Linked DNA regions of Homo sapiens: region 1 is linked to region 2. Evidence: fine-mapped expression QTL. Tissue or cell type: whole blood. Region 2 holds a variant in brackets; the other region holds the start of a gene. All regions are shown on one strand. Distances are from middle to middle.

The links. PIP is the estimated chance that this variant, and not a neighbour inherited with it, causes the effect.
Region 1: IL1RAP starts here. The variant in region 2 is fine-mapped to the expression of IL1RAP in whole blood (TOPMed, PIP above 0.99).

The regions. Positions count from the first base shown.
Region 1 is chr3:190,510,292-190,518,480 of GRCh38, forward strand. IL1RAP (interleukin 1 receptor accessory protein) reads left to right here and starts at 3,794. Exons shown (of 12, transcript NM_002182.4): 1 at 3,794-3,928. RefSeq lists enhancers at 3,141-3,230, 3,983-4,484, 4,485-4,984 and a silencer at 3,381-3,730.
Region 2 is chr3:190,563,494-190,571,663 of GRCh38, forward strand. It overlaps IL1RAP (interleukin 1 receptor accessory protein), which reads left to right. Exons shown (of 12, transcript NM_002182.4): 3 at 796-860. The coding sequence starts at 797. Among named protein-coding and RNA genes, the nearest start is that of IL1RAP, 53 kb to the left of the region's middle. RefSeq lists an enhancer at 2,364-3,563. The variant G/A (reference allele first, on the strand shown) is at 3,273.

The DNA of each region.
Region 1 (8,189 bases), 53 kb before region 2:
TCATTGTTATTCATATTTTTCAGAGAATAAAACTGTGAAAAAAAGAAATTAAGTAACTTGACCACATTATGTAAACTTGATCCCAGGTAGTCGGGCTTCAGATTCCTTGACCTCAATCACTAGCCTGTATTTATTCTATTTTCATTTATAAGGGTCTCTGAAGTAAGGGCAATAGACTCTTTGGGTAAGAGTTTAAGCAGGGACACCAGTGAGGGGAGAGATGGCAATGACTTGAACCATGGTGGTTGTGATGGAGAAGAGGAATAGCGTGGTTGGATTTGAGATGTGTTTTGAATGTAGAGGAAGCAGAAGGTTTGTGGATATAATGTGTACAGGCAATGAGAGAGAGTGATAACTCCAACTTTTTGACCTGAGCAACTGGGTAAAAGACAGTGTTGCTTACAAAGCTCTGGTTTGGTGTGGGGCAGAAATAAAGTTTGAATTTGAACATGTAAAGTTTGAGATGTATTTAAAACATCCAAGAAGGAGATATGAAGGAGGTAATATGGTATACAAAGTCTGGTTTGGGCTTTAGATTTAGATTTGCAAGTTATTATCATATTGATATTTTAGAAGGCCATGTGTCTGTCTGAGTTCCCCTAGGTAGAGAATATAACCACTTCAAGGATTGAGCTCTAGGACACTGGAACCTTCAGAGATCATGAAGAGGTAGAGGATTCAATAAGAATCTGATAAGGAACAGCAGATGAAATACATGAAAAACAAAGAGTCAAGTACGAGAGAGTGTGAAAGAGCAACAGATTATCTGTGTCTAATGCTGCTGATACATGTACAATGAAGACAGAGAATTGATCACCACATTTGGCAAAGTGAAGATCATTACAGATGCTGACTGTGGAGTGGTAGAGATAAATGTCTGAATGGATTGGGTTCAAGAGACTAGCAAACTCCTGATGCGTCTTACAGCTACAGCAAGATAATTAAAGATAACCTAAAAAAAAGGTGGAGGGTAAAAGCTGGGAGAAGAAGAGAATAATAATACCTTTCCAAATACATCAATCAATTGCAAAATATTTTATTGTGCATCTTCTATACATCCAGCAGTATTAGTCACTGACATCAATGAATTTGTAGCTTCATTTATTCATTTAGGCAACTATTATTCATCAAATGTTTAGTATGTGATGGATATTTAATGGGTATAGCTTTAAAATATTTTTCTCAATTGTTAGCATAACATTTTTTCATTTTTAATTATTACGGGTACATAATAGGTGTATATATGTATGGGTGACATGTGATGTTTTGATACATGCATACAATGTGTAATAATCACATCAGGGTAATGACAACAGGGTGTCATCACCTTGACCATTTGTCACTTCTTTGAGGAACATTCCAATTTCACTCTTACTTATTTTAAAATGCATAATTAATTATTGTTGACTGTAGTCACTCTGTTGTGCTATCAAGTGCTGGGTCTTATACATTCCAGCTAATTATATTTTTGCAACCGTTAACCATCCTCCCTTCCCCACAACTCCCTTGCCTCTGCTACTCTTCCCAGCCTCTGGTAACCATCATTCTACTCTCATATCTCAGTTCCTTTGTTTAATTTTTAGCTCCCACGTGTGAGTGAGAATTTGCAAAATTTGTCTTTCTGTGCTTGGTTTATTTCACTTAAATGTAAAAGGAAAAAGAGATGTTTCTATTTCTGTAATCCTAACATATCAACATTTTTTCACATTCCTTTCAATTGGTGTTCATCTCTCCACAACTTTTACTCAACCTTATTTTGTAAGCCTTTTTCTTTGTAGACATATTTCCATAATATGATAGTTATGATGCAAATATTTTATTCTGTGCGTAGACAGCGTTGGTTAACTAATCATTTTCATTTCCAACCATTTATATTGTGTTCAAACTACAATATACTATGAATATTTGTCTATATGATTATTCATCTTAATGTTATCTTCCTTAAGCTATGAGTAGCCCTTCAATGTCCGGGAATATACATCTGGTTCAATTCTGAATTACTAGCATCTGTTTGGCTTCTAGGTAGTACATGAGACTGAGTAGCGGCTGAGAGCATGAACGTCGAGTGTCTCTAGTCTCATTTTGTATTCTCCACTTGTAGGCCTGTAGCCTTGGTCAAGTTATTTAAATTCCCTTTATCTCCTTTATGAACTGGAGATAATAATAGCACCCTCCAGGTTGTATTGAGGGTTACCTGAATTAATATACACAAAGTCCTTATGATTGCACCTTTTTATTTTGTAAGCACTGTGTAAATGCTTCAGTGTACTATATATATATAAAAGTCTGTGCCCAGAATATATTTAAGGAATGAATAATAAATCAGAAAATGTTTTATTGTTGCTTCATACAGGTAACATTTTAAATTCTTTTGGATTATTTTCTCTTTGGTTCAGTGACAATGTTGTGAGCAGGTGCTGGGTCCCAGGTATCCTGAGATAAATAAAAATTTTGAGCAATTAATTTTCATAAGTGATGTCAAGAAGTAAAGTATCATGAACATTTCTATGGCTCCAATTACACTGATATTTCACCTTAGGAACTGAAGCTCCGCCAGGGCAGGGGCAGCCTCTGAGTTTCGTACTGCTGTGCACCTTTAGCAGCACGGGCACCTGCTGGTTTCATTTCCTTCCCACTCACCTGGGCCCTTTTCTTATTTCACATCTTTTTTCTCCTTTTCCTTAAATGCTTTCTCTGAATCTTGATTCTTGAAAATAAATTAGTAGGATTCAGTTAGGTAGGAGGAGGAGAAAAGAAGATGTGATGAGCAAGAAGATGTGCGAAGACTCGTCAGTCTGGTAGGTGGCTTTGGTTAGGGGGTTTCAGAAATGGGGACAGGTCATGAAGGGCCTTGCCAGTCAGGAAAAATCATGAGGCACTAGCAGTAGGAACACAGCAGAAGGTGCCTGAACAAGAGAGATGACTTAATGAAAGCCTTTATAACGCTTCCCGGGATATATTACAGACTACCATCTACAGTGGCAGAGGGCAGCTGAAGGAAGGCTCTTGCAAAAACTTGGGGAAATGGAAATGAATGAAGGCAAATATTTGTTTTGAGATTATTTCCTTCTATGTAACCTATTAGTTCTTTTATTCGTTCCCCATACATGTATTGAGTGCCTACTTTGTGCCAGGCACTGTGCTAGGCAATGGGTATATTACCAGTGGACAATACAGATTTAGTCTTGCTGTCATGTCCTGTTGCTTGCTCATATGAATGTCAGTTCAAGACAGCAAGAGCTCAGGACTGCGGAGATCGCATCTACATCCTGCCGCGCTCTGTGCCGGCACAGGGTGGTTGCGAAAATCGTGCAGTCTGAATTGATTCAAGGCCTTGCAGCATGATTGCTAAATACGTCGAGACAGGAAGAAAGGGCAGGGTGGCACCGATCTCAACTGCGAGAGCACGATCTTGCAATGAGCGCATGTGTGCGCCTCGGTGTGTAGTGAGGGGCGTAGCTTCCCACAGCGCCTGGCAGCGTGCCGAGCTGCGCTGCAGGACTAACCCTCTCCTTTCCCCGCGCGCTCAAGCCCGCACAGGCGGTGGCAGGGAGCCGAAGGGGCCGAGCGCAGCCTTGCATCCGTCCGCAGGCGGGCCCGGCGCCGCGCCTCCTGGCGGCGGGCGGGACCGTCCAGGACGCCGCCCCGCGGCCGCAGCTCCTGGAAGCCCAGAGCGCCGGTGGATCGCGAGCCAAGGCGGCGGGTGGAGCCTGAGCCGTGAGGCCGTGGCCAATCGCGCCGCTCCGGGGGAGGAGCCCCAAAGGGGGAAAAGAAAGTGCGGCGGAAAGTAAGAGGCTCACTGGGGAAGACTGCCGGGATCCAGGTCTCCGGGGTCCGCTTTGGCCAGAGGCGCGGAAGGAAGCAGTGCCCGGCGACACTGCACCCATCCCGGCTGCTTTTGCTGCGCCCTCTCAGCTTCCCAAGAAAGGTGAGTCTCGCGCCGCCGTGAGGGCTCAGAAGTCACCAAGCCGCAGAATCTCAGGGTAGACGGATTCTTAGAGATCCTATCGTTAAACCCTCCTACTTTACAGAAGAGGAAACTGAGGCACAGAACGAGGCAGCGGCTGGGATAGGTCATACTGCTAGTTAGGACTGGAGCCCGGATTCGAACCCAAACGTTCAGAGACCCATCTTTGCTTTGCAGGGATTTAAGTAACGCGGTTGTGGGACGTCTGCTCGTTGCCGCCCCCATCCTCAGCCCTTTGAGGGGTCTACCCTTGTTTTCCTCCTCACCGCCCCCTCCCCGCTACCACCCCCCGCCCCCATCTCCTCCTTGGTTTCTCCAGACCGCTGCTGGAAGCGCCGAGGACAGAAGGAAGCGGTGTGTCCCAGCACGCCCACTCGGTATCACGTCGCTCTCAGCGCAGAGCTGTGACAGCCTGGGAAAATGCTGCTTGCAGCCTCACTCCCTCTTCCCCTGACCTGCTTTCTCAGAAAGATGCCCCTTCAGAGGGTGTCGGACCAGCTTCTGGAGGAGCGCGGGGAGAGAGGAGCGAGGCCCGGGCGCCAGTGACCTCCTATGGTACTGTTTCTTCCCAGCCCCGGAGGAAGCGGAGCTAGTGGCCCTGTGGGGCACAGGGTGCCCCTCACTTGGGAAGAGCTGACTTCATGGAACCATAGAGCCCCTTCCCTCTTCTAAATACTGAGAGGGAGCAAGGAAGCTGAGTTAAAGAGAAAATCACAAACATAAAAGCAAACTTCGGCTGTTTCCTTTAAGAGCTAGCCCACAGCCTGTCTTCCCTCCACCTTCTGGTTGTGAAATTGTGAACCAGGGCGCCACGCGAAGCATTCTGCTGCTCTGCTGTACAGATCCCTGGTTTAGCTACTGGATGAGAAAGAGGACTTGAGTTTTGACTCCAGCTCTTCCATGTATTAGCAGTGTGAACTTGGGCAAGTTATCTCACCTTTCCGATACTGGGTTTTTCTTTTCTTTCTTTCTTCCTTTTTTTTTTTTCCAGCCAAAAAATGGAGATTTATAATGGTCACAATGAGCCCTTTGGGTAGTTGGAAGGATGAAATGGGATCATTCAAGTAGCATGTTTAGCACAGTGCCTGGCCTGGCATCTGGTTGGTTCAAAACCAATGGCAACTATTGTAAATATTGTTACATAGTAACCTTGCAGACAGTGGGTTTTCAGAAAGGTGATTTCATACCATCTTACAGAGGCATTTTAAAAAAATCTGTAAATGTGGTGTCTTTCTTCTTTTGAATTTGAGCAACTCTTTTATAATAAGAATTTTCTGAATGTTGTCCATATGTGATGTGGATCATGGATGCTTAGCTCGAAATGTAAAATTGATGTTTCTCGGTGATATGAATTTCCTACTAGTTTTTAGGTCAAACCTCAGGCCTGTGAACTGCCCTGATCTGAGACATCCTTTATTGACAAAGAGGGTCTTGAAATGGGTGAGAGGCAGAAAGACAAGAAGACAAAGTTGGAAGTTGCAGCTGTGTTACAGATTATTCTAAGCCTTCTATCCTTGCTCTCTTAGGTCAGTCGAGCAACCTTACATTTTTCATCTAGTATCAGAAAACAAACAAAATTCTCATATATTTCTTTTGGATTGTACAGAGATGCTGCTAAATGCAAACCTTTCTGGACACAAACTTGCCTTATTTAAACACGAACACACAGACATTCACATGCCCACACTAGTCTTCCTGTATTATTGGTATTTTAAAGTTAAATGGATTCCCTCCCACACCCTTAACCCTTCTCATGACAATTGATTTTATTCTGATGAACTTCATGCAATAATTTACTACTATCTACTGGCTTTGCCATGCGTCCTTAAATTGAGTGTCCAGCATTTGTAGTTGGCTGCCTCCTTCACAGGCCATAGCATTTGTATGCAGTATTGGTAAGTGCTTGAGAACAGAGTGTGATACATCTTGATGGAAGATAAGAGCCCAGTGGTGCCCACTTAAGTACCTCCCGCACCAAGCATTAGTAAAGGATGGGATCACCTGCTTCTATCAGCTTGTTCCATGTACATGCATTGTGGTGAGCTGGCTGGGATATGACTGAATGTGTGCCTGAGAGACAGGGGCCTTGTGGGGGAAAAGGAAAATGTTCAAAATAAGGTCAGATCATGAGGATGGAAGGGAGATTAAAAGCTAATTCCTTTGGTTCTGATTCTTCAAAGAAAGGTTGGTCAATTATACCCATATCTTCATACAGATTATTACTTGTTACCAAAACCATATATATGTATAGAACTTTAAAATTTCCAAAGTGCATTCTGTATATATGATACTCCTTGTTACTCACAATAGCCCTGGGAGGACATGGCAAGAATATTAATAGAGGAAGGAGCCCAGGTTTTGTGGTCAGACCTACTTGATTTCAAATTCCAGCTCTCATGCCTGAGTAGTTGGGTGATATTGAGCAGTTTATTTAATCATTTGAAGTTTCTGTTTTATCCAGTTCTAAAATGGAAAAAAAAAATGCTTACTTTAAAAATCTGTATAACGAATAAATTCAATAGAATAATGTCAAGTACATGTAGTGAATAGGTGCTCATTAAATGATATCTCTTCTTAGCTAGTCTCAATTTATTTAGAACATAACTGGAATGAGACTCAGAGAAATGAAAAGTTGCTAGAGGTCATGTGTTAGTATGTTTCAACTCTGGGAATACAGTTCACACCTTTTCATGTCTAGTTTAGGGCATTTCCCATCACACTCTGTTTCCTCGCCAATGAGATATTTAACAATTTACTTCAGTTATAAAGTTGACCTTATTTGTCTGGTTATTTCAGGATATCCTTTTTGTTGAAAAGCAGGTATTTTCTTGCAAAGAGAACAATCCTTAAGCACAGTTCTGTAGAGTTTAGTGGAGCCAACTGTCATAAGAGGGTATTTAAAGCAATGGTCTCTAAGACAACCTTCCTACTCTCCTGTGTTGGATGTAATACACCTTTGATTCCTAAGAGAAAGGGTACTAACTAAGAAGACATAAAGTACAGAATTATATCACTCTTTTCTTCCTGTTGTGAGTGGTTTCTTCCCTCTGCCATCCTCATGCTAGTTCAAAGGCTGGGAAGAAGATTGAACAACAAATGTTATGAGTGTCCATGGCATTATTCAACTTTTTTTTTTGACAATTTTGTGGGTACTGAGTAGAGTAGACAGAATAATGTGCAAAGGTGGCATTTGCAGAAAGAGACCACTGCTTCCTGGTGGTGCTGATTACTTGTCTGGAGTTTCACTCCTCCTTGTGGAAAGTGATGGCTGGAGGCTCATGTTGGAAGATGAAGGGATCTGTTTCTGGCCCAGGCAGTGGGGCTGTTCATCTGCTGAGACTTCTCATAGGCCATTAGATTTCTCTTCTTTGTAGCAAGCACACAGGCTTGCAAACGCAGATGTAGAAGGAACATTTTGCTCCTTGCTTTTGGCATTTTGGAGCATATGTTTGCTCCTATAGGTAAGCAGTTAGCATCATCTTACCTGGCACGGTTAGGAAAGCAGAATGTGGCTTGAGGAAATCAGAGGACGTAGAAAAAAACAAAGATTATCTCCAGCCTATACACAGCTTCATTTGTTGCTCAACTTCATCAGGCTTTTGCTGGTGACACAGATGTAGGATCTGGTGAGTCACTGTTGCCTTGCCCATGAAATATTAAAGAGAGCCACCTACTGTGCTCTTTGCCCATTTTGGAAATTGTTCTGCATGGAAAAAAAAGAAGAAGAAAAGAAAAAAGAAACACCAAAGAATAGGAAGGTTACAGAACATTTGGTAAGTGATATTTCGGTGGATAAATTCAGGTTAGCCATTCATTTGCTGCCTTTTTTTTTTTTTTAAATGATAATGCATGGTTTACACTGATAGGGTTGTTAGGAGACATCCCTTTGGTCTGACTTTATTCTAACTCTCTGTAGCAGCTGTGGTAGTGTGGATTTTGAGAGTCTGGCTGAAATCTGAGGCAAGTTATTCTATAGAGATGATCTTTTGGCTCTGCAGCTAGGAAATAGGGACACTGATGCCTGCTTAGAAGCTTAAGTCCCTATTTATTTCAACATCTTATTCATAGAAAACATTTAATAAACACTGATTCTGTCCTCTGCTAACAACTCCTTCAATGTATTAGTCTGTTAAATTACGATCATCATAATTTAACAGGTACTCTTTACTTGTCTCCATCATTATTTGTGCTGAGTATCTTAAATATATCATCTCATTCAATC
Region 2 (8,170 bases):
ATCTCCACATCTTCAGCATTAAATATCATGCAACCAAATGTAAGGGTATGGTTCACAGCAGTTGGCTGTTTCAGCTGGTTATTAATAGGAAGGCGAAAGATCATAGAAAGTTGACTCCTCCCTCATCATTTCTGTCTTCCAGTGAGAAGAGGAGAGCACGAACAGCAGGAATTAGATTTATATATTTTCCTTAATATAAATTCACAGTATGGTAGATTGCAGACAAAGTCTGAATCCAGGATTTCTAGACTTTCTATGTGTCTATGTGTCACTAAAAGGGAAAAGTACCTGGATTGTAAAGTATTCCAACTAGAAATAGACCAAGGGAATGCAAAGAGGGGTAAGAAGGTTGAATTTATCTGCCAGAAATGTAAATCCTGGTCAAAAAATCCAGATGAATATTTTTTAAGTAGGCAGTTATAGTTCAGTGAAAAAGAGAGTTGTGGAGCCAGAAAGCTGGAGTTTGATCATAGCTCTACCACTCTCTAGCCAAAGGATCGTGGTGATGTTATTGAAACTTGTCTCTAGCCAAAGGATCTTAGTTATGTTATTTAAACCTGTGTATTAAACTTCTTTATCTGCATGTAATATGGGAATTGAAAAACAAACAACAAAAAAACAGAAACAAAATAAAACCTGTCTTATTGGTTGGTTCTGACAATGAAATTTGTTAATATTGTAAAATTCTTAGAACAGTCCCTAGTCTATAGTCAGCAGGCATGAATGCTAGTTATTATTATTTAAGCCCTTGAAAGTAGTAAGTGATTTCCCTTACCTTTGTATTTATGGTTACAGGATGACACTTCTGTGGTGTGTAGTGAGTCTCTACTTTTATGGAATCCTGCAAAGTGATGCCTCAGGTAAGTGAATGGCTTTTGACAATGTATTAAAATGCAAGTCATGCGTAGGGTAATGAGTCCACTCTTCCTGAAAATGAATTTAAATAAACATAATGTTATTCATGTCCATTGTCTTCTGCGGTAGCAAATAATCATAAAGCAGAATAATAGAATTTTGATGATGGAAAGAACCATTGCTGTCTCTAGTCTTCATGGGATAGAGTACACAGGGGGCAGTGGGCCGCTGTGTTTAAACACAGGTATTTTTCATTACCTTCACACTCAGCCAACTAGAATATTGCTTTTTTCCCTTACCTCAGGTCCTATGGGGGAAAAATGGGAGTGATAATAGCACAATCTGTTTTTCAAATTTGAGCCAGTGGTGGAAAAGTTATCAGTGGTAATAATCCATTGAGATGTTAAATAAAATAATGAGTTTTTGTCATATTGTTTCTATATAGGAAAAAGAAAGGATCTGTCTTTAGACTCATTCTTTCTCTGGATGTTGCTTTATAAGAGGAACCAGCTAAGACCTTTATAGAGTTTGAAAACCAAACTCAGTCATCATGGGCCTGGATCACGTGAAATTAGATATGGAAGAGACTTGCTATTTGAAAGTCCATCTTTTCAGATCTCCTCTTCTTCCCAGAATTATGCCCAGAATCACTCTCTATCTCTGACTATTAATCATTACATTTCAGCCTATGTTTTTGGACTAATCAAATTCTTAGAAAGTTTTTAGTACATAAAACTGAAATTTGTCTCTTTGATTTTAGTATCTAAAACTGAAATTTGTCTCTTTCCAAACATTTACTTGGTTCAACTGTAGGACTGAAAAAAAAAAAAGAAACAAACAAACAAACAAACAAAACAACCAAAACCTAATGCAATGGTTCTCTAATTGTAATGAAGGGAACCTAGAGGTCCTCATTTTATAAAGCTTTTCATGTAAAATTCCCCTGAACACCATAAACCATACTTTACATATCGTTGCTTTAATTCCTTTTCTTTGTGAGAGGGCTTCTGCAATGTTAAGTTAGCTACCATATAACCATGACCTCAGTGTTCTGCAATATATGCCTTCAACTGTTTTTCATATGACATGGATTTGAGCTCTCCTACCATCCTGATCATCTTTTCTGGGTGCGTTTCAGCTTTTCTATGCCACATAAAACATTGTATTAGAAACCAAAAATAGTACTAAAGGAGTGGTATAAGTAGGACAGAGTACAGCTCAGTGCTGAAACTAGCAGTAACTTCTAGCCTTGTTGGCCCTTTGGGGCTTCACAGAGGAATGGCTGTAGATAACCGGAGATGTTATTCGGCTGGGATGCGCTAGGAGACAGCTCCTTGGCTGTTTAGTCCAGCATCTGTCCTGCTTGGTTAGGTGTCGCGTTTGATAGGTGAGTTTCTTGATGTCCTGATTTTCAAATATGTTAAATATAATTCTTGATTTTAGTTTGTTCTTATTTGATTTAGTTCTATGTTTGAATGCTATCTGCTCACAGAGGCTTCCTTGACCATCTTAACTAAAAATCCCTACCAGTCACTCTCTCTCCCTCCATCCTGTTTTAGTTTTCTTTGTAACACTCACATTCCCTGATATTATATTAGCCTTCTTTCTCTTCTCTCCTCCTCCTCCCTCTTCCTCTTCTCTTGTTTCCTCCTCCTTTTCCTTCCTTTTTTTCTTCCTGAACTCCCTGTCCTTCCTCCTTTTCTGCCTCCCTTCTTTCCTTTCTCTCCATCTCTTTTTCTTCCTCCTTCCCTCCCTCTGTCTTGGATTTTAAGCTGCCTGAGGGCAGGAACTTGTTCAGGAACTTTTGTTTGTTATCCAAACACTCAGAATAATACTGACACATAGACACATAGCAGATGCTCAATACATAGGTGTTAAATGGTTGAATACATGTCCCTTTACATCCTTTCCCCTGCCCCCAGACTGTCCAGTTTTATAATGGAACGTGTTTGGGTTCATGCCAGTAATTCATCATGTGGTTTTATGTCCTCCCTCATCCTGAAGGAAGAGGGACAGGTGACTGTGTTACCATTGCTGAAGGATCATGGAGGTTCCAGAAGCTAATGAGTGCTGGTGCCTTCCCAGCAGTCCTGACCATGTTACTTTTCTGAATGACCTTTACTGTAATCCATCCAAGGAGTCCCCAGCCCCCACCTCAAGTGCTGTTGGTAAGAGAGCTTTCTATCCAGGAACTGTGACTCATAATTCTGCCAGGGGAAGCTAACTTCTTGAATAAGATAAGTTCTCATACCAGCCACATTGCGTCACCGTGGGAGCAGGAAACATGTTGTAATCCCCTCAGCCCATCTGGCACGTACTCATTTGCCTTCCTTATGAAGAGGTGTATTGTGTCTGACAGTGATGCCACTTCCTAGTTGGAGGGAGAGGAACAAAAAGGACATGTTGTTGACAAAAAC[G/A]AAAAGAGCAACTGGCTCTGGGCTAGTGGGGGAAGAAAGAAATCATTGCGCATCTTGAGGGATCAACCAACCTCTCTGCACATGAAAGTATTGCCTTTTACAAGGCATCTGTGGATGCTGACAGATTTGTTGGTCTTTCATGAGGCTCTCCCTGTGCTCAGGTTCCCATCTCAACGGAAACACAGGTTGATGTGAGGAACAAAGCAGAAATGTTCTGAAAACCCTAAAGCAATCTACATGCGTATCATATTAGTAAGACATTTATTTTGTTCTGAGTCCTTCCATGTGGGCCTTTTAAGAGAATCCTCAAATATAAAAAAGAAACCATAAAAGCATAAGAACTTAGCGCCATGCAATGTGTTTTCACACGCAGTGAACTGGCCGTGAAGTCATACGATTCTGACTTCCGATCATGATTTTTCTGGTAGCAGTACTGTGATCCCCTTATCCCCTCAGGAATGGGGGAGCAACATTTTCATCTTAGGTGATGATAAAAGCAAATGATTTTTTAAGAAAGCTTTATTTCCCTTTAAGGAATTAAAGCTTGGATAATTATAATAGCGATTCTATAATTATAATGTGCTAGTTATAGTAATAATAATAAAGCTCCCTTTGCTTAAAAAAGCAGTTTGCATTGTACATATTCAATGTCAGTCTCACACCCAAACCATGGGGTAGTCAGAGCTGTTGTAACTACCTTTGTTGGGTAAGACAAGTTAGGATCAAAGTATTTAATTGTATTACTCGAAGTCACACAGCTATACTTAGCATGCTTGTGACTTCAACGAGTTTCTGGATTCCTGACATCCATATTATTTTTACGAAATATGCTCCAGTTGGGGTCTATTAGAATATAAATTACTAAGAAAAAAGATTAAGATCTAAGGGATCACAGGTAATCATTTTGCAAACTGTTGAAGAACCACTCTGTGATAGGTTTCTATGCTTTGTAGGTAAGGTATATCCTTACACGCTTATCCTGCCCCCTCACAGCACTGAAACATTTTCTTCAGGAGGAAAATGATTGTAATACAAAATTCAAACCCAATATTCCTTTTTTTGCTTATTATAGTATTAAATATTTTCACTAATAAACTCGAAGAAGTTCTGTTTGTAAGACTTCGAAATGGAAACTTCAGCTCAATACACGTCTCTTTTGCTGTGCCTCATTGGCAGTGTGTCAGGAAGCTGAACTGTTAAAAGCTGCCTTTGGAGTAGACATAAATTTTGGAACCTGTGATCCCAAGTTGAGGAGGTAATAAAAATAGCACCATATAGAATATAGTGAATTTAAAAAATATTACCATATCAAAATTATTTGCTGGACAAATCACATGAAAAAGAGAGTACACTGCCACCCCAAAATGCAGGCACACACACGGATCTTTGAGAAAGATTTTATTTCAAAGTCAACAGTTGACTGTGTGCCAGGTGCAGGGCTGGATTTCACACACATTATCAGGAACTTCGCAGGAACCATTGTACAGGGGTAGGGGCTGGAGACTCTTCTACCTGTTTGATAGTTTAGGAAATGAAGATCCAGGGAGGTGGCCCAAGTGCTCATGATAGCCTGGCTTGCCTGATAGAGCCAGGCTGCCTTGACTCCAGAAACAGTGCTCTTTTTTATTTTTCCATACTATAATTGCCTTTCTTTAGGACTGTGCTCTGCTACTAGAAGTAAGATCCTCTGATTCCTTTTCCATTATATTTTACAAAATTGGTAGAGAATGGAAATCATCTATCCAATGATTGGGAGTGAATTATACAATGCAAAATAAATAAATAGTAAAAAACACTGTGGTTTCCTAGTAATTGAGAGATTCAAGTTCTGTTTTACTCTGTGACTTGTTTGATGACAGTAAAGGGGTCATTTCATCACTTTTTGTCATTGCATCCTTATTTATAAACCAAGCCAACCAACCAAACAATTAACAAACAATAGCAGCAGATCCCAGTCAATTCCAGTTTCTTGATTTTTATGAAGGAACACTATGCATCATGGACACACACAGGGTATACTCCTATTAGCTACTTAAATTCTTTCTAATAACAATGTTAACAATGATTTCACTTTATTCTAAAGATCATGCGTTTGACCATTTTAGATTGTAGAATCCAGGGTTAGTAAGAGGAATTTCTTATTTTAAGAGGAATACAGTAAAGTTTGAGAGAAGGAAGAGGAAATAATTACCAAATAGAATTCCGTGAGAGCAGAGAAAGTTACCAATCCTATCAGGAGATATTGGGGAAGACTTAATCATTGCTCCTTCCTAGGAAGAAACGCATCTCTTATTTGGGAATGAAATAGTTCAGGGCAACTCAAAAGATAGTGCAAAGGCATTTAGAAGCCAAGCTGGAAAGGTAGGTTGGGAACAAATTATGCAGGACGGGAATTACTTCAGGTAAAGAGAATGTCCACATTTAATGTATTTTGGTTATAGTTGGCTAGGTTTCTTTTCCTTTTTTTAAATTCTGTCGTATTTTTGCAAGGACATACACTATTATTAATTCTATGTGATGGTTCTTTCACCTTTTGGTAAGAATTCAGTTTGTTACCAGCCCCAGTGGCCTCATTTTATTTGAATATCCTTGCTTTAATAACTCCGTGCTCAGATATACTTGTGACATTGTGTCCTGTCCCAGTTGCCCATGGCTGGTCATCCTGAACACTCTTCATTTCTATGTAATTTAGTCCAAACATTTGGAAAATGTATGAAGAATACTGTTTCATTTTATTCTTAGTCCTAAAGGTCATTGGAATTACAGAATTTCACCCTGTTGTCATTTAAATGATGCCTCTCGGAAGCAGATCTCTTCACTTTTTTTTTTTTCTTTAGCTGTGTTTATAGCTTGAAGCACACTTATATTTTAGTTACTTATATTTCCCAAGGGTGGATTTACTGTAGCCTGATTGAAAAGAAATTTAAGTACCACATAATTGGCTTGATACTGAGTTTGCAAATACACAGCTTCTTGTATCACAGTGATAATTCTAAGTTTAGAAAAATGACCTGGTTCTTTTTCACATGGCTGTGTTAGTTAAAGGAAACCAGTATTTTTGTAGGAACTCCTGCATACCGTTGTAGGAAAAAATGTTTGTTTTACAAGAATTTATTCTACCCTTTGAATTACCTTTGTTTTTGCTATCCTTTCCCTCACTCCCCCAACCCTGAATATTCATTTCTACCATATTTTAGGGACCAGATTGCCACCTTAGCAGTGACTCACTACCAAGACCAGTTTCTACCCACTTTTCTTTCACCACTTAAAAAGTTTCTTTTCTGTTTAACTGATTAACTTTTTAGAAAATAAAATATATACCCACCCAGGATAACAACACAATGATTGCTTTATTTTTAAATCCACTGAGTGCTGCCATCTCTCATTTATTTTTGAGGAACAGTGAGAAAATGGATACATTTAACAAATAATTTGGGAACCTCAGTCACCTTCAAGTTACCTGCTATCCAAACCTATAAAAGCTGATGTACAAAATTTTCTGGCTTTGCCTTTGCGTGTTTTAGAGATAGTGGGAATAATGAAAATGCAAGATGACTACGACAATGAGAGAAAATAAATAAAATAATCACTTCCTCAGCAACCTAGACCATATTCTGTTGTGTTTTATGACATTCATTTCTCCTTCTACCATAGGAACCAAAATGCTTGGTATAGCTATACATTACTGGGAAATAAATAGCACTTTTCTGCAGTGTTTGTAGGGTCTGAAATAGTTTAAGGCTCTTATCCATCAGCCCATTTTTTTTTACTTCTGAGATACTTTCATATTTATTTATTTATTTATTTATTTATTTTTTGAGACGGAGCTTCGCTCTTGTTGCCAGGCTGGAGTGCAATGGTGCGATCTCAGCTCACCTCAACCTCCACCTCCCAAGTTCAAGTGATTCTCCTGCCTCAGCCTCCCTAGTAGCTGGGATTACAGGCATTTGCCACCATGCCCAACTAATTCTGTATTTTTTTGTAGAGATGGGGTTTCTCCATGTTGGTCGGGTTGGTCTGGAACTCCTGACCTCAGGTGATCTGCCTGCCTCAGCCTCCCAAAGTGCTGGAATGGCAGGCTACTTTCATATTTTTTTTAAAGTGCTCTTTAAGGTTTATAGTAGTGTTCATTTTGATATGTGCACCAAGATACTGGTGTTTGCGTTTCCCCCTTCCCTTATGTAAGAAAATGTTATGGTCTCTTTGAGATTTGGACTTGCCACCCAGTGCTACCAAGACTGACCAATTTAGTCTATTTGCCAATTACGTTTCCTCAGTGGAACCTTCTCCAGGACCTACTGCATACGTGTAGATACTCAAGAGGAAAGAAAAAGAAAACAGGCACATCGATCATGATTTTTTTTATGTGTGATTTTTTCTGTTAACTATTGCTTTTTATTAATTTATTATGGTGGGTTTTATTTTTTCCTAATTACTTACCCTTGCATAAGAAGTATAACTATGGGCCAGGCACACTGGCTCATGCCTATAATGCCAGTACTTTGGGAGGCTGAGGTGGGGAGATTGCTTGAGGCCAGAAGTTTGAGACCAGCCTGCACAAAATAATAAGACCCTGACTCCACAAAAAAAAAATTAAAAAAATAGCTGAGTATGGTGATGCACACCTGTAGTCCCAGCTAATCAGGAGGCTGAGGTGGGAGGATCACTTGAGACTGGCCGGTAAAGGCTAAAATGAGCTGTGATCACGCCACTGCACTCCAGCCTGGGCGACAGAACAAGACCCTGTCTCTCTCTTTCTCAAAAAAAAGTACAACTATAGTTGAAATATAGACCTTTATTATTATTACTAGATGAGAGATTAAATTGTATTTATCATATGTAAAATGACATTTCGAAGTATTTATACATTGTGGAATGACTAAATCTAGCTAATTAAC